Linked DNA regions of Homo sapiens: region 1 is linked to region 2. Evidence: fine-mapped QTL for protein levels in blood plasma. A gene starts in region 2. The other region holds a variant in brackets. All regions are shown on one strand. Distances are between the middles of the regions. Region 1 holds the start of LOC124901395 (a long non-coding RNA gene). Region 2 holds the start of HDDC2 (HD domain containing 2).

Region 1 (15,072 bases), 27 kb after region 2:
TTCTTTTAGAGATGTCCTCCTGGTTTCGTTCCCCTTCCCCATTTTTATCTGGGTCTTTTCTTCATCTGTGTTATCTGTATCCCACTCAATTTTGATTTTCTTCCCAGCAGTTTCTCCTCATGTGGGCCCTCTCCTGGAAAGCAGCCCCAGCAGGTCAGATTGGAAAATTCACTAGGGCTGGGCTGTCTTTGATGTAAGCTCCTTGTGCTCATCCACTATTGGAGTGGGCAAGATCCCTCCCAGTGTCAACTACTGTTCTTAAAATGTGAGATTTCTAGAGAATACCTGTTGGCCCTTTTGAGATTCTCCTATTCTCAGGTCCATCAGACATTAATCCTCTCTTACTCCCATGCTGATGGCATGCAGGGCTTATGGCTGGAGGTGGTTTGTCTCTACTTGCACATATTTGGACTTGATGGGAATGTCATGTCTCCCAGTTTTTGTTTGGGTTTTGCTGTTTCTTTGCTGTGTCAGGTTTTGTCTGTTTCTTCTCTTTTGCTCACTATTTTATCATGAACCTAGTTACTCAAACCAGAAACTAGGCAGTCATTTTCACTTTTCCTTCTCATTTACTTTTATATTTTAGTTCACTTCTTTATCCTTAATATTTCTTAAATCCTACCACTTCTTTCCATTTTCACTGCTACTGTCTTAGACCAGATTCCTATAACGTCTCTGCTAGTGCTACAAAGTCTTAGAATCTGATTTCTCTGCTTCCAATCCAGATATTATCCACCTGTAGTTAGAGTGACCTTTCTGAAATGCAAATCTGAACCTAACTCTTCCTGACATTAAAAGCTACTTGCAATAATTTCTCCAAATGCCATGCATTCTTCTCACCCCTAGAGTTCTGTCTGTAGTATTATTTTGTGTGCTTTGCCTTTTTATTGAAGAATGCCTATATCATTAATTTTTGAGGGAAAATTTCAATAATTTATATTTCTTTTAAAAGAAATCTGTAAGTTCATGAGAACTTGTAATAAGATGTATTGTATTTCCTAATGGTCTTTAAATATTTTTCTCACTTTCAACAGAAAAAAAAATTTCTAGACTGCTATGCTTGGAGTATTCCATTTCCTTTTGTGAAATCATGAACTTGAATTTATTAAACATAAATATATAACTGTGAATGTGAATAAACAAATAAAATGAAATTATTTTTAAGTGCCTTTGAGATAAAGCAAAGTGTATTTGGTTCCATATTTAAATGATTCCCCCATACAGTTCTCAGCTTTATCAAATCCAAGTAGCTGCCTTTATAAGAATAAGCGTGTAATAAAAACTAAGAAACCTTTAATTGATTCATATCACATCACCCTGCCAAGAAACCATGACAGGTTTGTTATCTGAACACATCTGGGGTAGAATTACAAACAAGAACTTGGCAGGGAAACCAGTTGGGAGCACTTTGTTCTTAATAGGAGAATGAATCTATATAGTATTAATTGGGACTTGTGGTTGGGTGGCATGCATCATTCTATAAGAAGCAGAACTCCTGGAGCTTCTTGTTCCAAGTCTGCACTGCAGAGGGAGGGACCAGTGGGAAGGGAAAGGTAAAAAAACTGCTCCCCCCACCACATTCACCACCTCCCACCTGCAACACATGCACATACCGGTGCATGTAAAATCCTCAGATCTTGGCTCTATCCTCAATAGTCTTAACTCAGAGGGACTTAATTAAATCTACCCTATGTGGAAAGTAAGCACAGAGATTCCCAGGTAAAGTGGTAACCAAAAGTAAATGATAAAGCTAGAAATACACTTAGAAATGACAAGGAAACCTGACATGAAATGGAGAGGGAAATACAGGTTTGAGAGGCATAAGACGAAATATCAGCTTGATGTTAAAAATATCTAAACTACTTAGGTAGATTAAAGAACAATGGTCTTAAAATGAAGACACGGTATTAAACAGGAAGAAAAGATCTTGAAAGTACCTAAGATGAACATACAAGATTTCCATGGCTTCTGGTAGAATACTTAGAATGGAGAGCACATCTTTCTTGTATAGAGTCCTGGTGTTAGGCTGTGAAATTACAGAAGTGTCTCTGATGGATTTCTAAACAGTAGAGAAATGGGGCCGATACAGAATGTACTTGTAGCTGTCACTCTGATTTCGGGTACCAGAGTCAGAATTTTCCCAGGATACCCTATTATGCAGCGCTAATCATGCTGCTTTAATTGTCCCTTTACTTAGGAGTACGAGACCCAATCTAGTGCAGAAGCCAAATTTGTGAAGCAGCTAGACCAATGTGAAATGATTCTTCAAGCATCTGAATATGAAGACCTTGAACACAAACCTGGGAGACTGCAAGACTTCTATGATTCCACAGCAGGTACTCAACACCATTTTCAACAAGAGTCCATTTTAGTTTGGCTTACTCAGTGTAGTGACTAATGTTAATATTAGGGAAACCCACTGTTGGTACCTTCATCTGACCCTTTCATGTGGAGCATCTAAAAAGAAAGGGAAGGAAACATTCGGGTAAGAGGCTGAGGATAGGAAATAAATGGAATAGAGTTTAATGTGGAATGAACAGTAAGCAACAACAGACACAGGCAAGAAAAGACGGTGAGAGAAGAGATGTTGGGTTGAACAGTCCCCCATGCTAGCCGTCATGGACATACAATAGCTTAGAGCTTGGTTGCTACCAAAGCAGAAATCTGGGGAGGTCTGAGGAGCAGGGATGACAGCACAGATCAGCCAATTGAAGTGTAGAGGTGTTTACAAGAGAGACACCTGCATCCTTGTTTACATCATGAGCCAGCCTAGCCCCTCTGATCTTCCTCCTTGTCTTTTCATATATAGGTGCTTCATTCTCCTTACTTAATTGCAGGTTTGGAATGGGCAGAGATTGTCTTCAGCTTTCTGGGCTCTCACACCTGAGTTTTCCCATAGTTCCTGGTAGAGGCACTGAGGAGCCTGGTGAAGTTTCCCCTACCTCTGCCTAATTGATGATTCCTTGCCTGAGTCTCATCCTTATTCTCAGTTGCACCTGGGGTGACAGAGCGTAAATGCCAAGTGGTCCCCTTCAGCCCCTTCCCAGGACCTGGAATCTCTTTCTGCTTTGGAATGAAGTGTGGGTCAGATCGTAGACTAGAGCCCCCAGTGAACCCTGGGATCAAGCTGGGGAAATGAATATACTCTCTTGTCAATATGGGAATGTATTTTTCCCTGTTCTTTTGCTTTGCAGGAAAATTCAATCACCCTGAGATAGTCCAGCTTGTTTCTGAACTTGAGGCAGAAAGAAGCACTAACATAGCTGCAGCTGCCAGTGAGCCACACTCCTGAGACACTCTCTAAATTGCTGCACTCCTGTAACAAACATTATTTTTCCATTTCATTGTATTGTGTTTTGCCATTGTTGGTCTGTTGATTTCCCTAGATGTGAGTCTGTTTGTTTTCAATTGTCTGAACTTCAGCAAGAAATGTGATACAACTTGGGCACTAAAAGAAGCCACAGAACAGGAAGCGGTCATGAAAGTGCCATGGATGAACACTGGAGGTGGCAGTGCCTGTTTATGAACTAAATAAATAAATATTAAACACCTAAAATATTAGAATATTTATTGGAGATTTAAAATCATCTTATTCTGACTTAATTACCGATATCCCCGAAGGCTAGGTTCATTGAATAATAGAAAATTTCATTATGATTGCTTTTAAGAACAGATTCTTCAGCTGATTTAGTGATAAGAATCCAGAAAAGAAAATGTACTAGTGATGTATTCTCTCCCCAGATGAAATTGCTGCCTTATTCAGATTTACTCTCTTGAGCCAGATTTTGAATTTCACTGCAGACTGCTTCAGACTTCTAATCATAGGCTTGTAAACCTACTAATAGGCTCTGCCCCTCTTCCCAATACTTTTTGTCATTTAGAGATATAAACCGGGGCATATAAAAATGCAACTTGTATTCCTTTGTATATTTTTCCCTGTCTGACTTATAAATCTTGAGACCTTTATTGTAAAAGCATGTATCATCAGGTGAGAAATATAAATAGGAACTGGGGTCATTGAGCCTCAGGTAGGGAATATATCAACCCGATTTCTTCCTCTCTTTTCCCTTTTATAGGATAAATAATCCACCCTGTCTGCCTTTACATTGAATAGTGCAAAAAAGAATACGATTTCTGCAAACCTGCCCAGTGTTTTGGTGTGGAGCAATGATGCTTGTCCCTTTAATTCAAATGTCACTTTCCATTTGAAGGCCTTCGAGGCTGGCATGGTGAAAATTCTAGGCAGTGTTTCTTTGGAAACTCTTTGCGGTATCCATGGATACCCAATCTGCAGGAAGCAAGGTGCATGATCTTTTCAGAAGCAACACACATATGTATGTGTAATTGCTCTGTATCAAAAAGAAGAAAGAGGGTAAAGTCCATTACTGGATATATGGTTAGTAGGAAAACAACTCCATCTATTAGGATTGTGGAGTTTTTCCCTTGGCATGAAAACATACACACAAAATAACCCCAGATAAAGTTCAAGTATTTATAACCAGAAGGTGTTCTGTGGCCCTGCAGTTTTATTTTCAATGTTTTGTCTACCATAATTTTCATAAATAGCTAACAAAACAATTCACAGAGAGACTTTGGAAACTTCTACTGGGTTAGACTTTATAACTAGTCACTTAACCATTATCTCAGTTCATCATCTACCTACGAAATGGGAGTTTTCAGTTAGTCCTAAACCTTCCTTCCTGAGGAAATACATCTTTTAAAGAAAGAAAGAAAAAAATATAATAGTGTTATAAATAAAACATTTGATGATAAGAAAATAACAAAATGAAGATCAACAAAATAACAGCTCCTGAGCCTACCAGCAATGTCTATAAATGAGCATTATTACTTAAAAATGTTAGTCCTTAGAAGATACCTGCCATTTGCCTAGACTTTGTCTTCTGAATGACAACCCTATAATTACAATGCAGAGTAAATAATTATTCATGGTTTGAACTCAAGAAAAAAGAATTATTTGTTACTGTTTGTCAGATTCTAGCCCAAACTGAGGTCCAAAGGGAGTTGGTGGGCTGGTGGCAGGTAGCTGGAAAAACTTGAGGAATCGTAGGCAGTTTTGACATGGCGTTATTCTCTCTCTAGGCGCGAGCCATATGTACAGCATCAGCAGGGTAGTTAAACCTTTTAGAGACAATAATGGATCCCAGCCAAGCACAGGCTCATGTGAATGGTCACCTAATGTGCCTCACGTGGCATGGTTACATAATGTGTAGAGTTGTGTGCCTGCGTTCCAAACCCACTGAGTCATGCTGTGCCAGAAGGCTGCCTCAGCCTACTCCTGACTAAAATGCAGCCATTTCCCTTACACTCCATCCCCTAGGCTGAGAGGAGTCTTTCAGGTAGGGATACGTGCCCATAGGGTGGAGCCCTGAATCCATAACCCACAACACTACAGAGAGCAACAGCTCATTACCAGGATCCCAGCTATGCTACTTAGGACTGTAAGGGCCCAGCGTAGGCCACAGCCCAGAGATGCCCACCATCTCTGCAGGGGGTTGTCAGTAAGGCTCTCCACCACCTTAATCTCCCATGAGACCTCTTGCAGGGCTGCTGTTATGTTCTGCCAATTGTCAGGGATAAAGGTACAACATTGTGTTCCTAAAAGGGCACAGGTGCCTCCTTGTGCAGCAGGTTACTATGTCTAAGGCCATTCAGTTTTGCAATACCACCTTTCTCATCTGACCAGCCTCATCCATTAACAGGAGGAGGGCCACTTGGGTGTAATTCAGAGCCCGAGTGGTGTGCTCTGCAAGAGCAGTAACTTGTGCTTCTACAGTTGTGACACCCGCCGCAGGGATAGTCACTGTCAAGGGGTAGAACCACTGGGGAGCTCGTCGCACTCACAAAAAATGAGAGTGTAGCGCCTTCCAGTTATGCAGTGTCTGGGCAATGTGGAGAGAACAGTGGCCACCCCCAGTTCCAACATTCCGTCCAGTTCACTGGTAGGTAAGGCCACCCTGTGTGCCCACAGACCCATAAACTCCCAGGGGGCACAAAGTCCCTTGGGGCCCAAACTTGGGGGCTGCTTGTTCCAGCATACCTTCAGTATGGTGACATGTGTTATGTTTACACAGGCTGTGATGGGTACCTATCCCACAGTGGTGTTACCCCAGTGTTGCTCTATGCTCTGCGACACCTGGGCTGGGGGTACTACATGTTCCCCCGCTAGCCAGCCCCAGCCATCATAAATGCTATGGGCCAGCCACATGATGGGAGCACCATGGATCTTGCAGCGTCCTTTGTCCAAAGCTTGCTGCGTTGCATTCCAGATGTCAACCACGGGACCCCAAGTCTCCAGCCATGTCCAGTTCTCTGTAGACACTGAATGTATATGCCAAGGCAAGTCATCTGCAGCTGCTGCTGGAAGGGCAGTGCAGACCCGAAAGTTGGAAACATTGATCACCTCAGCACAGGTGTGGGCGCAGTTTACAATGCAGTTGGAGCATGTTAACCTATGGCCAAAATGACAGAGCAGGCACAGCTACTAACAGAGGTAAGTGACGTCCCTCAGGCAAAATACAGGCTAACTTTTCATCCATGGATAACAATGCAGCTGCCAAGAGCTTCTGCCCTGGGCGATGGTACCACACCTTCTCAGCTCCCCATGGTTCCTATGGGTCCGGTATCTATGCCAAAGTCAAGGGGAAGCTCATAATAGGCCACACAGACAGTACTTATGTCCCCCAGAGGAGCGTTTCTTCCCTGGCTGTTGCCCTAAGAACAATCAACCAAGGGTGACATGTATTGAATGCCCAAGGAGTGACATGCAAGTCATACTGTAGGTCTTCCCCACAGGGAGCTACAACGGCCAACCACCAGCAGTGGGGAGCCTGGAGGGTCCATGGCCAGAGCCAGGTTTTCTGTTCCCCTCCCTTCAGGGGCATTGGGGCAAGCAACAAAAGGTTACCGTTCGTCCCCATACCTGGTCGGAGGAGGTCATCCTTAGTGTGTATCTGCAACTGAATAGGGGTGGTGGCCCAGTGTAATAAAGCCTCCACCAGGGCTGGGCGGTCTTTCCATGGCTGTTCATTCAAGGTTTGAACCACCAGGTCCAGCTTGGAACTCCAGCACTGCAAAGACGGGTGTGACATGCAAGTGTAACCCATTCTTCAAGAGCCCTTTATATTGCTCAATCATACCCACAGCTTGTGGGTTGTATGGCACATGGAATCCCCACTTTATGTCCATTTGTTGTGCACATTGTTGTACCTGTTGTCCAGTGAAATGGGTGCTCTATCACTCTCTATGGCCAGAGGGCAACCATACAGGGCACATAAGTGTTGCAGGACCCGGAGGATGTGCTGTTGGTTGGCCACCCTGCAAGGGTAGATGTACAACAGGCTTGTGGCCATGTCCACAGCTGTTAGCACATGTGTATACCCTTGCAATTTTGGCAGCGGACCGATGTAGTCTACTTACCACCTGGTCAAGATCACTCGCCCTGTTGTCACTTGTGTAAAAGTGGGCAGCTGCCTCCATTTAGGGTATGACCAAGCACATACTGGGCATTTCTGACGAGCCTCCCAAATACCTTGCATGGGCAGGGACAGACCCCAACACTTATTGCCCTGTTACATCAGTTTGCCCCTGGCATGTCCCAGTTTCTGGTGTAGCCAGAAGGCCACATCTTGTGTTGGTGCCGACTAACCATTGGACCTTGGCCAAGACATCTGCCTCATCATTGCCAAAGGTGGCCAAAGGCATATGGCCTGACACATGATAAATAATTACATCTTTCTGATGATCCATTTCCCAGAGGTCTTGCCACATCACTTGGCTCCATGACATAGGTCAGTGGCTGACTAGCCAATTTTGTATTTTCCAAGTAGTTAACCACAAGGTTAAGCCTCGGTAGGCTGCCCAGCTATCGGTACAAATCACCATAGATATCTGCTCCTTAGTGATCACCATCTATACTGCTGTAAGTTCAGCCCATTGGCTACTTTGCCCACACCTGGTTTCAAACCATATGGTGTCTGTACTAGGTTGGACTGCAACAGCGGTCCAGGCAGCATTAGATCCTTGGCTAGACCCATCTGTGTACCATGCCCCATCAGGAATGGGGGGTACCCTTCCTTAAACGGTGATGGCTTGGGGTCTAGGGGTGCCCCAGGCCCTATAGCCTTCTCTTGCATTAGGACTATAGGTCCCAAGACCTCTTGCAATTCTGCTGCCAAGGGTCTTGTACTCAGCAAACTTTGCTGCTCCAAGTAGGTGCCCCACTTTGCCAAAGTAGATGTCTGTGCCATCCCAGTCCAGGGGGGCATTATCCATGAACACATCCATCCCACTATTGGGTAAGCCATCCACATGATGACTGTAGCCCATCCTGTCACACTTTCACAAGACTGAAATGCTGCATATACAGCTGCTAGCTGTTTCTCTATCAAGGACTGTTGGAGCTCAGCTCCTTTCCACAGTTAAGACCAAAAGCCTACTAGTGTTCTCAGGCACTCTGTATGCTGCCACAGGCCCCAACTGAAACCATCTGTGCTCACATGCACATCCAGCTCAAACAGGTGCCCCTGGCCAACTACCCATAGGGCTTGTGCCTGCTGAATAGCCCACTTGGCTGCCAGGAAAGCGGTCTCAGCCATATCCCAATTCCAGGTAGCTCTCTTCTTTGTTAACCGTGCAACAGTTTTGTCATTTGAGCTAAATGGGGCAGAAATGCCCCCCAGTATCCCAGGAAGCCCACAAAAGTTTGTAGCTGCTTCACCGTGGTGGGCCAGGGCTATGCCTGAATTTTGTCAATAATAGCCTCTGGTATGGCCATCATCTTACCTAGACAGGAAACTTCCAATAATTTGGCAGATAATCCAGACCCTTGGACCTTGGATTCATTGATGGCCCAACTGCATGCTGCCAAATGTTGCTGCAAGAGAGGCACCGCCACATCTAAATCTACAAGAGAATCAGAGGTTAACATATCATCAATATAATGGAATAGGTGGACCCCTTCTGCACATTGCCAAGTGGCTAAATCCATGACAACAAGACCATGACATATGGTGGGGCTATGCACATAGCGCTGCGGCCACATTGTAAAAGTCCATTGTTGCCCTTGTCACGTGAAGGCAAACTGTTCCTGGCTCTTGGAGCAATGTCGATGGAGAAAAATGCATTGACCAAGTCCACCACATAGTGGTACTGTCCCAGTTCCATTGTCAAGCAGTCCATCAAATCCATGATTGACGGTACAGCTGCACTCAAAGCGGGTGTTACTTTATTCAGTTCCTGATAGTTTACCGTCATCCGCCTAGTTCCATCAAGCTTTCTAACTGGCCACACTGGAGAATTGTAGGAGCTGTGGATGCCACACACTATCTGCACCTCCTCCAGCTTTTAAATTGTCTCAGTTATCTTCATATGCCCACCCAGCAAATGGTATTGATGGGTGGAAGTAACCAGTTGGGGTTGTGACAGGACCTGAGGCTTGTGATGCCTATGTCCTTGCAGCACCAGCTTCACCAGATGCACTAGGAGTCTGAATTCCCTGGCCGTAGTTTGTAACGCCAGGCCATGTAAAATGTCCACCACCAGGATGTATTCAGGTATGGGGGAGACATACACAGTATATAAACAGGGAGCCAAGTGGCCAATGCCGAGGTACAGAGACACAGGTTTCACTTTCAGTAACCAGCCTCCATAAACATAAATGTAACAGCCTTGCCCAGAAACTTATCTGATTCTCATACACAAGGCTACAATCTGTGCCAATATCTACCAGCACTGACACCCGCTGTACGTTAGTGGGGGACCAGTGAATTGCTAATTCTACATGTGGCCACTGGTCATCTGGTGTCCCCCCAAGCTGGGCACATTGGCCAGTTCCCTAATCAAACAGAAAAGGCTCTACATTTCAGCCTGGCTGCAGCAAGTAGTCCTTGAGTTGGAGCACCTGGGCGGGAATGGGTCACGCAGCAATGTCCTTCTTCCCCTTGGTATTTTCCAGAATTGCTTCTCTGGAGACAAGTGTCTCCACAAAGTTAAGAATACTTCATTGGGCAGTTTATTGATTTTCTCTCAGTCAACCCTGGACAAAATCAAATCTACCCACATCTGTGAGTGTGTCACTCATTGGGGCCCCCTTTTTGCCCATGCGGGAGCCCCCTGTGGGCAGGGCACCTTCCTCTTCTTTATGGTGTGGACCCCTCAGTCCCACCGATGGCCTTCTGCTTCCCCGAGAGCTGCTATAGCAGTGGTCACTTCATGTATGCGGTGCCCTACCTACAGGGTGAGGACAGCAGCTAGGAAGCCAAA[G/A]GTGCTCGGGGGTGCAGAGGTAAACATTCATCACCTGGCCCCCGGGTATTCAGGTCAAACATAGCCTGCCATATAACCATCGCCCAGATGACTTGCACCAAATCAGCATATGACTGCCATTTACTCACAGTTTCAGTTATTTCACCAATGTCATTTCACACAGTCCATATGGCTGCCCAAAGCCACTCAATCAGGGTGTGGTAACCTTGCCCTGCCACTAGCCACCTGCTTACTTGCAACCACTGAAGGAGGGAGGGGAGTCATGATGGAGGCCAGCTTTTCCATCCCAGAGGCAGAACAGGGATACTGTCTGCTCCCTCATCCCACAAATGAAGCATGCAGTTGGGCAGGGGTTCCCCTGGACACTGGCGGCACTACTTGCCTAATTCCTGCAACTCAGTTGGGGTATAGGAAATATATGAATTGTGTTGTGTTACCACTCGGGTGGGCTTCCTGGGATATTGGGGGGCATTTGTGCCCCATTAGCTCAAATGACAAAACCGTTGCACGGTTAACAAAGAAGAGAGCTACCTGGAGCTGGGGGAGGGGTGTCCCTGAGCCCACCCTTGGGGCCCCAATGGCTGTTCATGATTTACCTTCCGACAGGCCACTGAGCAAGCCCACAACAGGGGTCCTTCCTCCACGGTATCAGACTGAGTGGGGATCTCCAGCTAAGACAACAGACCCAGCCCTCGAAGGCTCTCTCCTTGTTGGTGCTCTGTGCTTCCAGCTGCTTCAGTGCCTTGTCTGTGCACTGAAGCATGACCCATCTACCACTGCCCGGGTTTCCACCAGAGCCCATCCGAGCAGTACAGCTGCCACTGGGTACCACAGCCCATGTTCTGGCCACATGGCCGACCTGGAATCAGCAGGGACCAAAGGCTCACTCACCTCATGATCCTGCTTACAGCACCAATTGTCAGATTCTAGCCCAAGCTGAGGTCCGAGAGGAGACGGTGGGCAGGTGGTGGGTAGCTGGAAAAACACTCAAGGAATCACAGGCGGTTTTGACATGGCTTTGTTCTTTCTCTGGATGTGAGCTATATGTACAGCATCAGCTGGGTAGTTGTACCTTTTACAGACAATAGTGGCTGCAAGCCAAGCACAAGCTCATGTGAGTGGTCACAATGTGCCTCATGTGGCGGGGTTACATAATGTGCACAGTTGTGTGCCTGCACTCCAAACCCTCTGAGTCATGGTGCACCAGAAGGCCACCTTGGCGTACTCCTGACTAAAGCACAACGATTTACCTTACACTCTACCCCCTAGGCCAAGGGAAGTCTTTCAGGTAGGGATACATGCCCATAGGGCAGAGCCCTGGATCCATAACCCACAACAATACAGAGAGCGACAGCTCACTACTAGGATCCCAGCTATACTAGTTATGACTTTTAGGGCCCAGCATAGGCCAGAGACCAGGGATGCCCACCGTCTCTGCAGGGGGCCATCAATAAGGCTCTCAACCAACTTAATTTCCCATGAGACCCCTTGCAGAACTGCTGTTATGTTCTGCCAATTGTCAGGGATAAAGGTACAACATCGTGTTCCTAAAAGGATACAGGTGCCTCCTTGGGCAGCAGTTAGTATGTCTAAGGCCATTCAGTTTTGCAACACCACCTCAGCTTACTCCTGACTAAAGCACAGCCATTTTCCCTACACTGTTTTCCCCTTATGGATTGGTATTTTACCAGCTATTACATAATTCTCAATGCCCTTGTATTTGAAAAATGTTGATCCACCTCAAAGCCTTGTGGTGGTGATACATGCTCTGGGGGAAATGACTGATGAAGCGCTTTGTAAAAAAAAGCATCTCTGTACTCAGCATTTTCATTTAAGCAATTTGTCAGTCTTCACATTCAAAGGTGAAATGGGATGATTTCTGTGAAAGACATGATTTTGTCATTTTTGGTTTGCTTTAATTTATATATATATATAATGGATGGATATGTATTATATATATTATATATATAATGTGTGTGTACATGAATATACCCTCTGGTGTGAACTGAAAGTCAAGCAGAAATGTAGCATAAAGAATTTTACCATGCTTAGAAGTTATCAAAAGTAGCCATAAGATTTTGCCAAATATTGTTATAGTTTGAAATTACATTTGAATGCTAGGTTTGAAGAAGTTGTTTCACATTTCATATTAAGTCACTTTTCAACCTTACCACCATCTTCCTTTATCACACTACTTCCACTCAAATTGAATACTAAGTGAGAGGAGGACGATGGGGTTGATGTTGAACAACTTTAAAGCTTACACGTAATTTTGGAACAATGAACAGTGACAGAAGAGCCGTGTAGATCCCTGGGTTCCCTCTACACTGGCCACTGTGAACGGCATGGCATATCATGAAGACACATCCTAAAGCATGCACTTTGTTCTGTTTGCTATGGTTCAAGAACAGATTTCTAACAAAATGTGTAATTTAGAGTAAGATATGCAGATTGCATTGCTAAAATGACCTGCCAATAGTTGTAATCTTTTTTTGAGACAGGGTCTCATCTCTCTGTCACCCAGGCTGGAAGGCAGTGGCAAGATCTCGGCTCACTGCAGCCTCTGCCTCCCTGGTTCGAGAGATTCTCCCACCTCAGCCTCCCAAGTAGCTGGGATTACAGGGATGTGCCATCAAGCACAGCTAATTTTTGCATTTTTAGTAAAGACGGGGTTTCACCGTGTTGGCCAGGCTGGTCTCGAACTCCTGACCTCAGTTGATCCACCCACCTTGGCCTCCCAAAGTTCTGGGATTACAGGCATGAGCCACCATGCCCAGCCAATAGTTGTAATCTTTATGTGATGTGAGTTGTGAGATAAAGTAGCACTGTAAATTTACAAATATGTTCATCATAGCAACTGTGTTTAAAATGTGGTAAATCGTTAAATTTCAGAATGGCTTACTTTTTTTAAAAGCTAGTTTGTTTTGTAATCACAATTGCATCAGAATTTTTGATAATTGAAAGAATTGACGCCTGAGCCACTCGGGGATTAGGCCTGCACAGTCAAAAATCCGATTCTAGGTTGGGAGTTGTGGCTCACGCCTGTAATCCCAACACTTTGGGAGGCCAGGGCAGGTGGATCACAAGGTCAGGAGTTCAAGACCAGCCTGGCCAAGATGGTAAAATCCTGTCTCTACTAAAAATACAAAAATTAGCCAGGCGTGGTGGTAGGTGCCTGTAATCCCAGCTACTCGGGAGGCTGAGGCAGAGAATTGCTTGAACCCAGGAGGCAGAGGTTGCAGTGAGCCAAGATTGCACCACTGCACTCCAACCTGGGCAACAGGGTGAGACTCAGTCTCAAAAAAATAAATAAATAAATAAAACAAAAATCTGATTCTAACTTTGGACACCCCCTAAACCTAACTACCAACAGCTACTGTTGACCATAAGCCTTGTTGATAACATAAATGGCCAATTAACACATATTTTTATGTTATATGCATTACATGTGGTATTCTTACAATAAAGTAAGCTCTGGAAACAAAATGTTAAAAGAAAAACAACAGAGATAATATATGTACTATTCATTAAGTGGAAGCAGATGATGATAAAGGTCTTTATCCTCATTGTCTTCATGTTGAGTAGGCTGCAGAAGGGGAGAGGTTGGTATCACTGTTTCAAGGGGTGCCAGAGGCAGAAGAAAATCTGCACATAAGTGGACCCTCACAGTTCAAACTCCTGTTGTTCAAGGGTCAACTGTACATTTTCTGTGGAGGTATCCTTTCATACACACATGGTGTTGACCTGAAGTCATTTTGGTTTGTTAGTAAAAGGTTATGTCCATTGTGTGCAATTACTTTTTAGGACTTGTGAAACACTTTAAACTACTGCTTGTGAACTGAGCCTCACTAGATGTAATTGAGAAGCTCAGCAATCAGTCCCATCAGGATGATCTTGCACACCCATGGTGAGGGAGGACCAGGCAGCTCTTAGTGATGCTCCTGAAGCTAAGAGTAGGCTCACTGCCTAAACTAGGTAAGACTGCCCACCTACCAACAAGTGTTTGATTTATCTAATCTGAGTTATTCACACACATTTTATGACAAAAATAAAAAATGCTACTTATGCCATGGCCATTATGAATATCACTTCTAGGTCAGAGTGAATAATGAAAAGCTTTTAGATGAATAGAGATGATGTGCATAAGATTCTTACCAAACTAATGAAATCAGAATTTTGATGAATGGAATAAAATAAATAGCTAAAATGTGTTGGAAGCTTTAAGATATTACCACAAGTTTTCTTGATTGTTTTTCTATCCAATTCTAATATTGTGTTTTCAGATTATAAGGCTGAGACTATGGTGTGCAGAAATTGGTTGGTGAACGGAGATATTTGTTTAAAGTACCATAACTTTATCTAATACAATGCGGTGTGCTGAATATGGTAAAAAAAGAAGGTGGCAGGGAGTTTTCACAAGTTAGCCACTTCACACTCAACAGGCAGCTATAGATTGGGCACAGAGACTGAGTACTTGTGTGCTGTGGTGGGCGAGCCAGCACGGCCTGAGAACCAGCTGGGCAGGGTTGGTTTCCTGCCTCTACTTCAACCAACAGGCTGGAAGCACAAATAAGGGAGAATGCCAGCATCCCTGCTAGTGAGCTTTCTTTGTCTACATTTGTCCACTCTGGTCAAGTTTACAGCCCCATTCTCTCTGCTAAGATTCCAGGCCTCAGAGATGATGTTGTCCTGAACCACCTTGATTTTCAGTTAGGTGTACAGATTGCACAGATTGTCATGCTCCATTAATTTGAGTAGAATTTTTCAGATGTGCTTTACTTCAAAATGTCA
Region 2 (14,318 bases):
CTCAGTTTCCCCATCTGGAATGTGGAATCATTAATACCTTGGAGTGATAATGAGAGAATAAAACAAGATGAGAGATGTAACAATGCTTCACACTAACAGAGGCTCAATTAGCTGTACCTTTGATTATTATCGCTCTGAGTCCAGAGTTTTGTGTACTACATCACAGATACATAGCAGATTTCTCAATAGTGGCAGATTTTGCCCCTGTTCTGGCCACAGACCACTTTAAGAATCTTCTAAACAAAAAAAATTTCATAAGCAACACAAGTTGTAGACAATTTCAGGGTATCCACAGGTTCCCCTGAAATGTATATTGGATCCAAGTAAAGAGTCCCTCTAACGAGAGCCTTCTAATTTCAAACATCTTTCCTTCCAATTGACTCAAGTACATTGTGCCAAATCTCCTTCCTTGCTCACTGCTTTAAAATGGAACCACCTTCTGTGGAAATAAATTGATTCCTATTTCCTCTAACCTAATGCTAGAGGAAGATGCTTGACCAACACATCATTGAAATATGTCTTTGGTTTTGTGAAATAGAAACAGGCTTTCCAATTTCCCTTCTTCAGCAGAAAAGGGGAAGAAGGGTATTTGGTAAAAAGGGATTCAGGACATCCAACATGATTATCCACTGTATTAGTTTCCTATTACTATTGTAACAAATTACCATAAACTTAGCACAAACTTATTATCTTACAGTTCTGGAGGTCAAAATGGGCTGCATTAAGCTAAAATCGAGGGGCGGGCCACACTGCATTTCCTCCTGGAAGCTCTAGGGGAGAATCTAATTTTCCTGTCTTTTTCAGCTTTTAGAGTCTGCCTGCATTCCTTGGCTCATGGCCCCTTCTATCTTCAAAGCCAGCAATGGCCAGTTGAGTCTTTCTCCCATCACATCCCTTTGGCATTCACTCTTCTCCTTCCCTTTTCCATCTTTAAGAACCCTTGAGATTACATCTCACTCATTGGGATAATCCAGGATAATCTCCCTATTTAAAGTTCAGCTGATTAGCAAAGTTAATTCCATTTGCTACCATTCTCCTTTGCCATGTAATATAGAAATATTTGCAAGCTCTGGAAAAATTAGATATCCTTAAGAGGCTACTATTCCACCTTCTAGAGTCAAACATCTTGGTCTTTAATGATATAGTAGGAATAAACCTTGTTACGAACCCTGATGAACATCTTCAGTTTACAAAAGCAAGAAGTCGGCACTATATTTTGAGTTTTCACAGTAACAATTTACTTTTAGATAGTAATGTCCCCTCCAAAAATCCATATCATCTTTAAATAGTGTCCCTCAAAAACTATTTATACTCAATTCATAATTTTTCAGCAACTTGACGTCTTCCAACTTCTGATCACTTAGGAAACTGGAGAAATTCTTTACAGCTCACTACACAAAGTTAAGATAACTCACGTGTATTTTGCAAAGAAAGTTGCAAATACAGACAGAAATACCCATGGAAACTAAATCAAGCCTGCATGAATCAGGAGGAGCTCAAAGGAAATCAATGCATTGTTGGCAAAAGAAGACAAGGCTGCTCAGAAGGAACCGTAAGGGTTACACTGCACATTCACCAGCTAGCTTGCAGCCCCATTGCTTCATGGCACCTATCTCTTGAAAGCCCCTTACTACATCCTTCAGCAAATCCAACATCCTCATCTTCCTTATTCTCCTGGATCTTTTTGGTCATTTGCTTTCGTGTTCCTCCAGTGGACTGTCTGACTTTGCCTCTGATTCTTGATCCTTCTTTTTAAACCTTGATCCCTCCATTTTTTAATTTTTAATTTTTTAGAGACAGGTTCTGTTTCCCAAGCTGGAGTGATCATAACTCACTGCAGCTTCAAACTTCTGGGCTCAAGTGATCCTCCCATCTAAGCCTCCCAAGTAGCTGGGATAAAGGCACAAACCACACCTGGCTTGATATTTCCTTTATTTAGCACCACTTACCATCATAAAAATGGCTTCCAGGTCATTATCCTAACCACGTTTAATACAAGCCCCAATGTCCTTGGCATTTATTTGGTTCTTAGTCATATTTAATCTTGTTGCTGAACCAGTCTTCAAAAAAATTATTTCATGCCTTCTTTCTCCTTGTATTAGTCCATTCTTGCATTGCTATAAAGAACTACTTAAGACTAGGTAATTTATAAAGAAAAGGTATTTCATTGGCTGTACAGGAAGCATGGCTGCAGAAACTCACAATCATGGTAGAAGGTGAAGGGGAAGCAGGCATCGTCTTCACCTGGCAGAGCAGAAGAGAAAGAGAGCAAAGGGGGGAAGTGCTACACACCATTAACCAGATCCCATGAGAACTCACTCACTATCACAAGAACTGCAAGGGGGAAGTCTGCCACCATGATCCAATCACCTCCCACCAGGCCCCTCCTCCAACTTTGAGGATTACAGTTTGACATGATATTTGGGTGGGGTCACAGAGCCAAACTATATCACTCCTTAAACCTCAAATGCCTCCTCCTCTATTCACAAACATTCTAGCCTCCTTTCTTCCCAGAGGCCTAGCAAGATTGCACTCCACAGGCCCCCTTTGAAGTTAGACGTGGCAGTGTTACTTATTTCACCAATGATACGTAGACAAAAGGTCATATATCACTTCCAGAGACAGGCTTTAAGAGCCAGAGTGCCACTTTTCTTTTTTCCAATTTTGGCAAAAGAGAGCAAAGAAAGCCTCCTAGCTCCCTGAGTAAGGTTAGAGCAAGCAGCATCCTCTAGCTGATCTACAATAGACACTTAGCATGAGAGAGAAATAAACCTTTGATGTGTTAAACTGCTGAGATACAGGAAATAAGGAGGTTGTTTGTTATTATAACATCCCAGCCTATACTTTGCTTCCTAATTTGGTGAGAAAATAGAAGCAATCAGAAGAGAACTTCTACAACCTCCCATGACCACATGTGCGACTGATTAGTCACCCTATACTCTGTCCTCCTCCAATATTTGAATGAATTCTCCATATTCCTATCTAAAGCCCATCTTTTATCTTGTACACCAGATGGGAATATTTTTCCTTACTCAAGGCCGACATTCAAATATTTCTCTTCTTTGTCTCTTACATAATCAATGTTTCCCTTTCTACTAGATCCCCTTCATCAGTAAACATACATAATATCTCCTGTTTTGAAACAATCTCTCCACTAGTTAACAGCACCCCAACCCCATCTCCAATGTGCTGTAATACTTGCTCCTATTCTCTTCGGAATTATCTCACTAGGTTCTGCTTGGCCCACTACACTGAAAACTGCTTTTGTCAGGGTAACCAATAATATTGAATTTACTAAGTCTGGAAGTCAAACCTTGGTCCTCACATTGACTTGGTTGACCATATTCCTTCCTTCTTGAAATATTTTTGTACATGGCTTCCAGGACACAACTATCCTACCTACTAATCCTCTTCCTACCTCACTGGCTGTTCCCTCTTGATCTCACAAAGCCTAAATGTTGGGGTTCAGGTCTTGGGTGTCTTTTCTTCTTCATTCACACCCTCTTGCCAGGTGACCTCATCCAGTTTCATGGTTTTACACTGTCAACTGAAGAATAACGAGGTTCATAAATTTAGAAAGGAGAGCTTTATTTTTCATAAAGAGTACTGAGTGTCAAGTATGTGCCAAGCAAGGTGTCTGCCACTGACGGAGCAATGCCCAAGCAGCGGACACCAAGGCCAAGAAGGCGAAGGCTGGACAGAAGGTCCTGAGAAAACCGTGAGAATATGGAGGAGGGGGAGGAGGAATAAGAACAGGAGGAGGAGGGGGAGGAGGAATAAGAACAGGAGGAGGAGGAAGAGGAGGGGGAGAGAGGAAGAGGGGCAGGAGGAAGAGGAAGAGGAGAAAGCGGAAGTGGGGGAGGAGGAGGAGGAGTTGGAAGGGGAGGAGGAAGAGGGGGAGCAGGAAGAGGGGCAGAAGGAAGAAGAAGAGGGGGAGGAGAAAGAGATAGAAGAGTAAGAGGAGGGGGAAGAAAGACAAGGGGAAGGGGAGGAGGAGGAGGACGGGGAGGAGCTTCGCCGCGGCCTGCTCCGCCCAGCCGGGGTCGGTGGCCGCATGGCTTCGGTCTCCTCTGCGACCTTCTCGGGCCACGGGGCTCGGTCCCTACTGCAGTTCCTGCGGCTGGTAGGGCAGCTCAAGGTGAGCGGGCACCAGGCCGGGAGGCCGCGGCCGAGCGGGCGGGACTGTGGGGCGGCGGAGCTTCCGGCCTCCCCGCTCGGCCGGCGGTCTTTGCCCTTCCTGCGCCGCGTCCGCCACGCCGAATTCCGGAAAGGCCCCAGTCCTGCGGATGCGGCCGCGCGTTGCCGACGGTGGACGGAGGAAGCAGCCGGCGGGACAGGCTGGCCAGCTGGGGCGGCCCGGAGTCTGAGCCTAGAGCCTGGCGCCGCGAGGTCCGCACTGCAGCCGCGCCAGTTCCCGGAGAGCAGCCGGCCTGGCCCTGCCTGCACTGAGCTTTTCCGGGGCTCACGACCCCAGAACTCGTGTGTGTGTGTGTGTGTGTGTGTGCTCACGACCCCAGAACTCGTGTGTGTGTGTGTGTGTGTGTAAAGCGCGGCTGCTTCTGAGCACGGGTGGGAAGAACAGAATCTGTCGGCTCCTCAGATTTTAAGTGGAGCTTTTTATGTCTGTCTCACAGTTACTTCCAGAAACAAGACTTTTCTCCCGGCCACCCCCCAAACGGGATTTAATGTAATACACACGAGTTTCATCATGTGCGTCTTCCCCGTCTCTCTCCCAAGTTCAAAGTAAATTATCCGTTTCATGCCACTCTGACTACTATTTATAACATTCCTTAGAGATGTAGAATTCTGAGGAAGAAATGCAGTTTCACAAGATGAAGTTATGATGTGAATAAAAGGAAGAGTCACGGCTGGTAGCATCAAGCAATTAGAAGTGCCCTTATCCCTTGTGCCTCAGAATTTGGAAGCCTATCACTCGTTCACGTTCAGACCCTTCAATACAGTGTTTTCTGCTTGTGTAGGATTATTTGAAGGCAAAAAGCCGCAACTCTTGTTCGGAAAAATGCAGTTTTGTTTTTGTTTAAAGGACTTGCATATGTTCCATAATTATACATCAGTAACAGAATAATTTGACGAATGGACTTTGTGACTTATCTCTCTCTGTCTTCTACCCCTTTCATTCTCTGAGCTCTCTAGTTCATTTGATTCCAGATGTCTATCATTTTAGCTAGTTTAGCAAAACATTTTGTAATAGGTTCTGAAATTATGACCCGGCTTCTGTGTGTTATATCCTGGACATCTCTTGAAGAGCATAGCAGATAGTTAATATTTGTTCTTTAAAACTTCTTTTTCTTCTTCATATTTATCAGAGAGTCCCACGAACTGGCTGGGTATACAGAAATGTCCAGAGGCCGGAGAGCGTTTCAGATCACATGTACCGGATGGCAGTTATGGCTATGGTGATCAAAGATGACCGTCTTAACAAAGACCGGTAAGCTGAGCTGGACTTTGATGCTCGTGAGAGATTCTGGTCTATGGGTGTGCACCCGTTTTTACTACTGAGACCCATGTCAAATCCTTGTAGGTTAGTTTATAGGTCAAGAAAAATTATTTGAAGCAAACCATACAAATTTAGGATGTGGGTTATGTTGCCTCAGTTGTTGTAAACTGCAATCTGGGGTTTCTGTTGGCAAGTGATAGAGCCTGCCTAGGGTATCAGGGGAAACTTAAGTGTGATATTGGGGCCTTGAAGGTGAGTGTGTTATGTCTAAAATTCTAGCATTGTATTAGTACACTGTGTGCTCTTTCCTAGTGCCTTTTATGGATAGTAGTATCCATTCGTGAGGCTTCCTTTTGGAGTTGTGTGTGCAAGACATAGCTGAGAAAGAGGTATCTTCTCCCCCTTCATTTAATCGACAAGTGTTAAAATGCTTTTTGAGCACAGAACAAAAGTTTACTAGCATGTAAGAGAGTAAATAAATCCCAAGTGAATTACGCAGGCCCAAAATAGCTTCTGTAAGAAGTGAAATGTAAGTTATGGTCGAAAATGTTAAGTATTGTAAGAGCAGGGGAGATCACCTGTTCTTGGTTGATCTTAATGGAGGAGGTGCAATCTGAGTTGAGCTCAAAAGGGTTAACGTAGCCAGAGAGGTAGGAGAAGTCACTGCATGCAGAGAGAAGGGCAGATAAACCAAAGCCCTGAGTGTAGGAAAGTAAAGGAGTATTTTGCAAATGAGAAATTAATCAACTTGACTGCAGCAAAGAGTTCATTTGGGAAGCCTGAGGAGTCCTCTGTTACTCAGCAGATGAAGTGGAACTGAGGAGGTTTTTGGCAAATGGTACAAGGTGAAAATGAAGTCCAATAGAGATGCAGTTTGGAGTAGTCTGGGATTTGAACTGGACCAGAAAGAGACTAGAGGCAGGGAAATCTCAGAGGACACTGTTGGGCCTTGTACTGCCTTGGTAGTGTGGGGAGCCTAAAACATACTGGCCCTATGGGGCATTTATCTCATTACTTGACTTCCTGTTTTGATGATGAATTATCACAACCACTATTCCTTAACCGCTAATAATCATAACCACTTATTGAATGATTCACATGTGTCAGGAACATGAAAGTTGTCAAATGTAATCTCGTTTTTTTTTGTTGAGACAGTCTCACTCTGTCGCCCAGGCTGGAGTGCAGTGGTGCAGTGTCAGCCAACTACAACCTCCACCTCCCAGATTCAAATGATTCTCCTGCCTGAGCCTCCTGAGTAGCTGGGATTACAGGTGTGTGCCACCACACCCAGCTAATTTTTGTATTTTTAGTAGAGATGGGGTTTCACCATGTTGCTAGGCTGGTCTCGAACTCCTGACCTCAGGTGATCCGCCACCTCGGCCTCCCAAAGTGCTGGTATGACAGGCGTGAGCCACCGCACCTGGCCTATTAGCCTTTTAAAGTGAGATTTCAGAGATAAACCATTTAAGAAAAAAAATTAATGCTAACAATTTCCCCTATACTCACATGTATTTTATTGAATATGAACTAACAGTTTTGATCAGAACTGTTGTAGGCTGGCAGAATATAACTACTTTAGAAAATACTACATTAAAATACTCTGTGAGGGTGGAGAAAAAATATATATATTATATAACTTTGGAAGAGTATAGAGAAGGAACTTGTAGTAAATATAATTCTGTGTAATTATTCGACATTTCTTGCCTGATCAGATGTGTACGCCTAGCCCTGGTTCATGATATGGCAGAATGCATCGTTGGGGACATAGCACCAGCAGATAACATCCCCAAAGAAGAAAAACATAGGCGAGAAGAGGTCAGTGTTGACTATTGACTGTGCAAAAAACCACCAGAAAAACCTCTTGCTGAAGCAAAGCTAAGTTTATGAGACCTGTTACAGTTAGGGAGAATACCGCCTTGATAGTCTTAGTAGTGTCTTAGGAAGGGGAAGGTCAGGGGAAGATATTTTTAGAGATTCAGGGCCTGGGCTGGAGAATATTAAGATGGATCTGACAAGTTAGGCAACTAGCTGGGATTGCACAGTTTAGGATATAATAGATTTAGATTGGTAAACATGTGAAGGAAGGTCGTAATGAGTTTTGAAGAATAAACTGTTAGTGTTGACCCAGTTTTAGGGGGTTTACAGCCTTATCTTCCAGAAGCAGGGATTTCCTGGAATAAGCAGCAGATTGGATTTTGCTTGTTGTGTTAGTCTGTTCTTTTGTAGCTTTTATAAAGAAATACCCGAGGCTAGGTAATTTTTATTTTATTTTATTTTTGTTAATTTCACCTTTTATTTTAGTTACAGGGTACATGTGTAGATTTGTTACATGGGAATATTGTGTGATGCTGAGGTTTGGAGTACAGATCCTGTCACCCTGATAGTAAGCCAATAGGTAGTTTTTTTAACCCCCCTCTCCCTCCACACTAACTTTCATTAGAATAATGAAAATAGCTGGAATTTAAATGAATTTGTAGGAATTCTCCATGCTAAATAAGCTTTTTGGAGAGAAGTTCTATAAATCACAAATCGAATCATTATTGTAATTATTATTTAGTAAATTTTAAGTTACTCCTTTAACTTAGGGGTTGAAGGTAAAGAAAAGTCAAGTATTTGTATTAGAAAGAAATGAATAACATCAATAATGTATTAAATTAACATCAGTTTGGACTCTAAACCCAAAGCCCAGGGCAAACGAGGAAGATATGTTTGAAGCAGAAGCTGGAAAATGAAGGAAGCCTTTTTTGAATGCTGAGTGGTTGGTTTTCAATTCAAGAGTTATTGCTAGCTACTTTTATTAGAGGCCTAAGAGATTGGTCCTAAATTGCTGAGTAGTAGGAGTCTTTATTGAGATGGTTTAACAGGGCAAGTGTGTTTAAATGTCTATTCTCAGAGCTGGGGAGACTGGAGCTTGTGGGGGAAAAGAAAGAGACATCAGACTGTTACTGTGTCTTTGTAGAAAAGGAAGACATAAGAAACTCCATTTTGATCTGTACACCTGTAGACTAACGGGCTCAGTAGCCAGCAGGATTTTTGCCCTTCAAAGGTAAGAAGAGCCACAAGGAACGAGAGTCCCAGTTTAAGAGTTCCAACCTACCCAAAAGTGTAGGCACAAGGGGAATAGTATAAGGAATGTGTTCTTCCTGCCAAAGTTTAGGTCCAAGATACAGGCTGACCAAGACAGGAAAAGGGGAGGAGTCTAAGGAAATGTTTCTCTATATGAATCTGCACTGCCATGAATAAAGAACTGTTCTGTTGACTGGCAGAATTAATATAAAAAGAAACCAATTAGTTCGAGATTCTTAGTTGCAGAAAGGAATTAGCAGCTGAACCAGAGGATGGTGAGTAATGAAGTATAACACAGAGGGAAAGGAAGGGAAAAAAATTCCTCAATTACACAGCTCATTGTAGGATAGTTTTATTCAAGGGTAAATCTGGACATTGTGGACGAGAAATCATATTCTAAAGTACCAGTGAGTCATTGAAGACCTTAAGGTGAAGAGAAGGCAAGGAAAAATGGGGCCTAGAGGAAAAAGACAGACTTCCCTCTGGAAGCACACAGTGAATTTGAGATTCACTCCGCAGAGGAGCAAGTCAAAACCTTCTGGAGAAGAACCAGTCAGTGTGAACCATCTCCAACAACTGGAAGTGAGGAGGACCTACGACTGTCCCTACAAGAGCTGAGTCCTGGCTGGTGACACCCCATGGACAGGCACAGAGGGGACCTGAGCAATCAGAGAGGATACTGCTGCCTTCTAGGATGCTATATCCTGGCTTTGATGAAAAACCTTTCCAGCCTCATTAAACCTCCTGACTGCTGCCCACTCCTGCTGATTCACAGGGGAATAAATGTCATAAGCAGAAGGCAATGGGGAAACATCTTAAAGAACCACAAGTTCTTGGACAAGAAACCAAAGGCTTGGAGAGCACTGATGTTCTATTGCCTCTTCCTGCTGCTGGTCAGGATTTGGGAAGAGAGAAGAAAATCAGGGAGGTGAACAATTCTTTATGCAGATGGTGTTTATGAACAAGATTTGGATGTCTGAACCATGCATTAAGATAATTAAATGAGGGTTTCTTGGCTCTGAGTGGAATTTGCCTAATGAGAACCAGGAAACCTCATTTGCCCTTGCTGGCTACATCAGTGAGCCTCTAAACTAAAGTAGGAGGGAGAAAAAATACAGTGGTCCCTCAGTATCTATGGGGTATTGGTTCCAGGACCCCCATAGATAACCAAATCTGCAGATGCTGAAGATAAAATGGTGTCGTATTTGTATATCACCTGCACATACCCTTCCATATACTTTGTCATCTCTGTATTACTTATGATACCTAATATAATGCAAATGCTATGTAAATAGTTGATAACACTGTATTGTTTTTTATTTGTATCTTTTTTTTTAATTTTTTTTTTTATCTATGGTTGGTTGAATCCGTTAATGCAAAACCCACAGATATGGAGGACCAACTATACTTGATAAACCTGGAAGGCTGATTGTTTTGGAGAAAAGTAGGTATTAAGATGAAAGGGAGAATGAGGGCATAGAAGAAACAAATTTAGAAAGGAGCCAAAAGCAATACTTGTAGTCTGGCCTCATTCCTAAACATATTAACATACACTTGATATTATGCAGGTTGATAATGCAGGTTGATAAATGATGTCTGATAAGGATCACTGTGATCTAGTGAGGTGGAACTTGAAGCTGGAATATAATGGTGGCAGGTCATATTCCTTTGCAAAGGGGAAACCTTATTGAAACAGAGGGCAGAGTCGTGGTATGCCTGTGTCTGGGAGGGTTAAAGTTGCTAAAGAACTTGGAGATTACAAAGAGAATGGAACTTTATCATAGAGTAAGTATGACAAGAAGGAGAAAATGAAAAACACAGCAAACATTTATAGAGTGCTTATTATGTGGCAGATTTATAAAGTGCTTATTATGTGCCAATAATAAGCACTTTATATGTGTATTAACTGTTTAATCCCTATGATCCCTTTAGGTAGGTACCAATATTTAACCCCACTGTGTAGATGAGAAACCTGAAGGACAAAGAGGTCAAATGACTTGCTCAGGGTTCCACAGCTAGTATTAATAAATGGCGAGCCGGGTTTGAAACCCAGTCTGGATCTGGTCTTCAGTTGACTACTACACTCTTCAGCCTCATCAGTGTCTGAATGATGAATAATACCTTCCAGTTACTTGTCACAAAACTGACACAAAATATTTGCTGAAAGCTTCATTCAGCTCGGCACTTTAGGCAGATTTTTGACATATTTTGCTAACAGAGGAAGAGGCTAGGGAAGCTGTCACTCTAAATCTATGACTGAACAACAAGGTGAAACTCAGTATAGAAGTGGAAGTGTCAGGGCTCATCGCTTGCCAGGAAGGGAAAGGCTGGCATACTCAGCTGTGTACCCTGGACCTCAGCCATGTTGATTTCAGAGGGTTCAATTAAAAAGGCATGATTCTGGCATGTGCTGCCAAACAAAGAATATTAACTCTCTACAAGGTTTCAAAAATGCTATTCTGATTGTGTGATTAACAAATATCAATCAGCCTAGATTCAGAAAATCATAGTTCAGTTTCAGGAAGAGAGCAACAACGTATTTGCTGTTTTGTTTTTTAAAGAATATGGTGATTTTGAACAAAAAGAAGCCTATTAATAACTTAGTAATTGGATGTGATCACCAAAAAGCCAATTCAGTCTTACACTGCACTTAAAGGAATATAGTATCTAGCATGAGGAAGGTGATGATTCCATTTTCTTCCACCTTGGTCAGATCATACATATATCACTGTATTCAGTTCTAGGTGTGTCATTTTAAAGAGAATAAAATAGTCTCCTGTCAGAGCAGGACTTTCATGTTTGCATTCTACAGTTGAGATGTTCATATACCTGTATGTACATATGATTTAGTTCATTCTTTTCAACTGGAAGTAATTGGCAAACTTGTGTTTCTGCAATAGTGTAGAGAAAAGGAATCTATAAAGACACAGTTAATTTGTGAAAATATAAAGTATTTTCTCAAGTATTCTTGCTGAAATTTATGAAAAAGAAACAAGGGAGAATGCATGTACAACATAAGCTAAATTCCTTCCTACTAAGGGTAGTGTGATGCTACCACTCTGTAACTGAACAAGCCATTCAAGATGGTGATGTTATTTATAAGAGTGGATTGTTGACATTGGCAAATGTGGTTTGCTCTGGAAGTGGTTGTATTCTGTAACATTTTTTTTCTCCCAGTAATAAATAAATATACACACAAATGTCCAATTTTATTTTCACTGCTTTCCTGCAACTCACTATTTTATTTTATGTAAGACCTTTATATTGCCAAAAATGGTTTTTATAGCCATATTCCGTTCAAAGAGCCTAACCTCTGTGGTTAGAAGAACTGAGGCTGATTAAAAGGTATGGGATGAAGGTGGTGAAGGAATTTGAAGCTTTTTGAGAGTACTGGAGTAATTCAGAAATAAAGGAAGGATACTGGAGTAACTCATAAATAAAGGAGAAGACTGGAGGATAAGGGTAGCTCCTGGGATCTTTGAGACCAGAAAGTACAGAAAGCCTAGAAGTACAGGACACCCTCTACTCTTATTTTGTCTCTGCTTTTCATTAGGTTTTGGCTAACTCTCAACGCTTCTCCTTGTGGTGGGGAATATGGCTTCTCTCCTAGCCTCTGCTTGACAAATGCAGATGGCCCCTGAATGCCTGGTTTGAATTATAAGATTATCTCTTAGACCAGTCACTGTGGCCACAGATAGTCCAGCCCAGCGGGGTCACTGTCCACCTGTTTGACGTTGTGTTTGTGGGTTAGAGAGGAAAGCAGGAGGGATGGGTTAGGTGTGGTAGAAGAACTACAGGGAAAATTTTCAGCTTGATATAAGAAAATAATTTCTGCCAGTACTGTCTAAGGCAGCCTCTTGAGGTACTAGGCTCCCTACCAATGCACACATTTTTGGAAAGAGGATAGAACTGTTCCATGATGCTATTGAAGGGTTCAGATACTACATGGATGGTTTAGCTAATTGCCGTTTAATATCCCTTTTCAGCCTGTGAGTCTGTGAGCCTACAAAATTCTATCATGTAACTTCGTTTATGTTAATGGCAATAATCGCTCATTTGTATTGTACTTTACATCTTGCAATAAAAACATGTTAACAATAGAAAATGAATATACAAAAAATCTCTTTGAGCTTTGTAATTCAGTATTCCTTTCCCATTCTCCCCACTCAGGTTTGTTTTGAACTCTCATATGCTTATGATTGAAATGTATGTGGGTATGTTGTGATTTATCCACAGATGTAAAATCCTTGAACACCTCTGATATTTCTGTAATTGTCTCATGACCTCCTCATTGTCCTTTTCTATGTCTGTTGTGTTGTAGACCACAAAAGAGGTGCTAAGCGAAGCCCATATGAATGATTACACTTATTTATTTAAGGTATACAACTGCCTGCCTTCCTCACAAGCTATAAATATTGTCCAGTATAGGCCAATTTACTCTGCTGCCCCTGTGAGAGTTGTTTGTAAGAATCCGAACCTATTTGTCTGTTGCAGAGTGGTTGTTAACTGTGATAAATGTCAATATAATTAAAGATAATGGTTTAATATTTCAGGAAGCTATGAAGCAGATAACCCAGCTCCTACCAGAGGACCTCAGAAAGGAGCTCTATGAACTTTGGGAAGTAAGTATATATGGTACGTTACTGTTTTTAATTTGTATCTGAATTTATATGGCTCCCTGATGTTGTACTTGACTTAGATGATCTTAACAAGCGGTCCCTAACTTATTACTGTCTGGTTTGTGTCTGTTTCTCACTTCCCAGCTGCTGCAGAAATTTCTCCTGATGGATAGAAATTTTGTATCTCTCCAAGTTCCCCATTTCCCTCGCCACCCCAACTCCTGGCACTTGACTCAGCCCTTGAGTTCTTGCTGCTTTGCCCACACCCACCCATTTTTGGTCCTTGAAAAGAACATGGACTTGGGGATAGTTCAGAGCTGGGATTGAATCCCACCTCTCCACTTTGAGGTTCTGTGACCTCGGCACGTTTCCCTCACTGAGTCTGTTGCTCATCTGTAAGACCCTGGAGGGTTGCTAGGGTTGGATGAGGTCAAGGTGAAGTGCCACAGAGATGCCTGGCATGGAACAGGGCTCTACCAGTGCTCACTCCCTTCCCAGTGCTGCTCCCTTCCCAGTGCTGCTGACAGTGAAGGGAGGTTAGGCTGGAAGGAAAGGGCAGGTTCAGCTGTTGTTTCCCATTGCTTCCCTCTTCTACTGTTGTCTTTCATTTGTGAAGGGAAAAAAAAATTCCCCTTTCCAATTACAGTTTCTCTCTTCCAGCCAGTCCACAATGGCCCTTCCTTGCTTGAGCCCTAAGCCTCCCCTTATTCATAGATAGCCTTTTCCTCCCACTCTCACTTTTCACATCTTCTTCAAAGTCCATATTCATCCTCCTGTCTTAAAGCTTGATCTTCTACCTTCCCTTTCTACTTCCTTACTCAGGCCCCTTCCTGCTTTGCCTCTGCCAAAGCTGGCAGAGTTTCATGTCTTACTCCCTCATGTGCTGGGTCAGGTTGTCCCTTGTCTTAGGAGTGTGAGGGGAAGTGCCCAGGGTTGAAACCCTGCACAACTCCTTCTAGAAATGCCATGTAACGCTCAGATTCTGTATGGCACTGTCATTTTCTGTGGTTTGGGTTGATGGTGGGATGAAATAGCCATTTTAAGGCATTCAGGTGTGGTGCAAAGACCAGAGCCTTGCAGCCAGAGAGACCTGAGTTTGGATCCAACTCCTATTTACACACCCATGTGTGAGTTACTTGACTCTATTTAACCACATTTTCTCCTCTAGAAAATGA

The links. A credible set is the group of variants that fine-mapping cannot tell apart. PIP is the posterior inclusion probability: the model's chance that the variant is causal. Protein levels are from antibody-based Olink assays in UK Biobank. Linkage for the fine-mapping came from a reference panel and not from the study's own genotypes, which makes the PIPs less certain.
Region 1: its variant is the best candidate, but not a certain one, in a credible set for the plasma level of the HDDC2 protein (UK Biobank, PIP 0.50).

What each region holds. Positions count from the first base shown.
Region 1 is chr6:125,264,366-125,279,437 of GRCh38, reverse strand. It overlaps TPD52L1 (TPD52 like 1), which reads right to left. Exons shown (of 7, transcript NM_003287.4): 7 at 15,031-15,072. It overlaps LOC124901395 (a long non-coding RNA gene), which reads right to left and starts at 11,323. Exons shown (of 2, transcript XR_007059736.1): 1 at 11,173-11,323; 2 at 3,518-8,922. HDDC2 (HD domain containing 2) reads left to right here. Exons shown (of 6, transcript NM_016063.3): 5 at 2,198-2,336; 6 at 3,195-4,088. The coding sequence ends at 3,292. The variant G/A (reference allele first, on the strand shown) is at 10,282.
Region 2 is chr6:125,291,669-125,305,986 of GRCh38, reverse strand. HDDC2 (HD domain containing 2) reads left to right here and starts at 4,020. Exons shown (of 6, transcript NM_016063.3): 1 at 4,020-4,138; 2 at 5,328-5,449; 3 at 7,171-7,273; 4 at 13,078-13,146. The coding sequence starts at 4,055. RefSeq lists a cis regulatory region at 2,317-2,497 and a silencer at 3,991-4,330.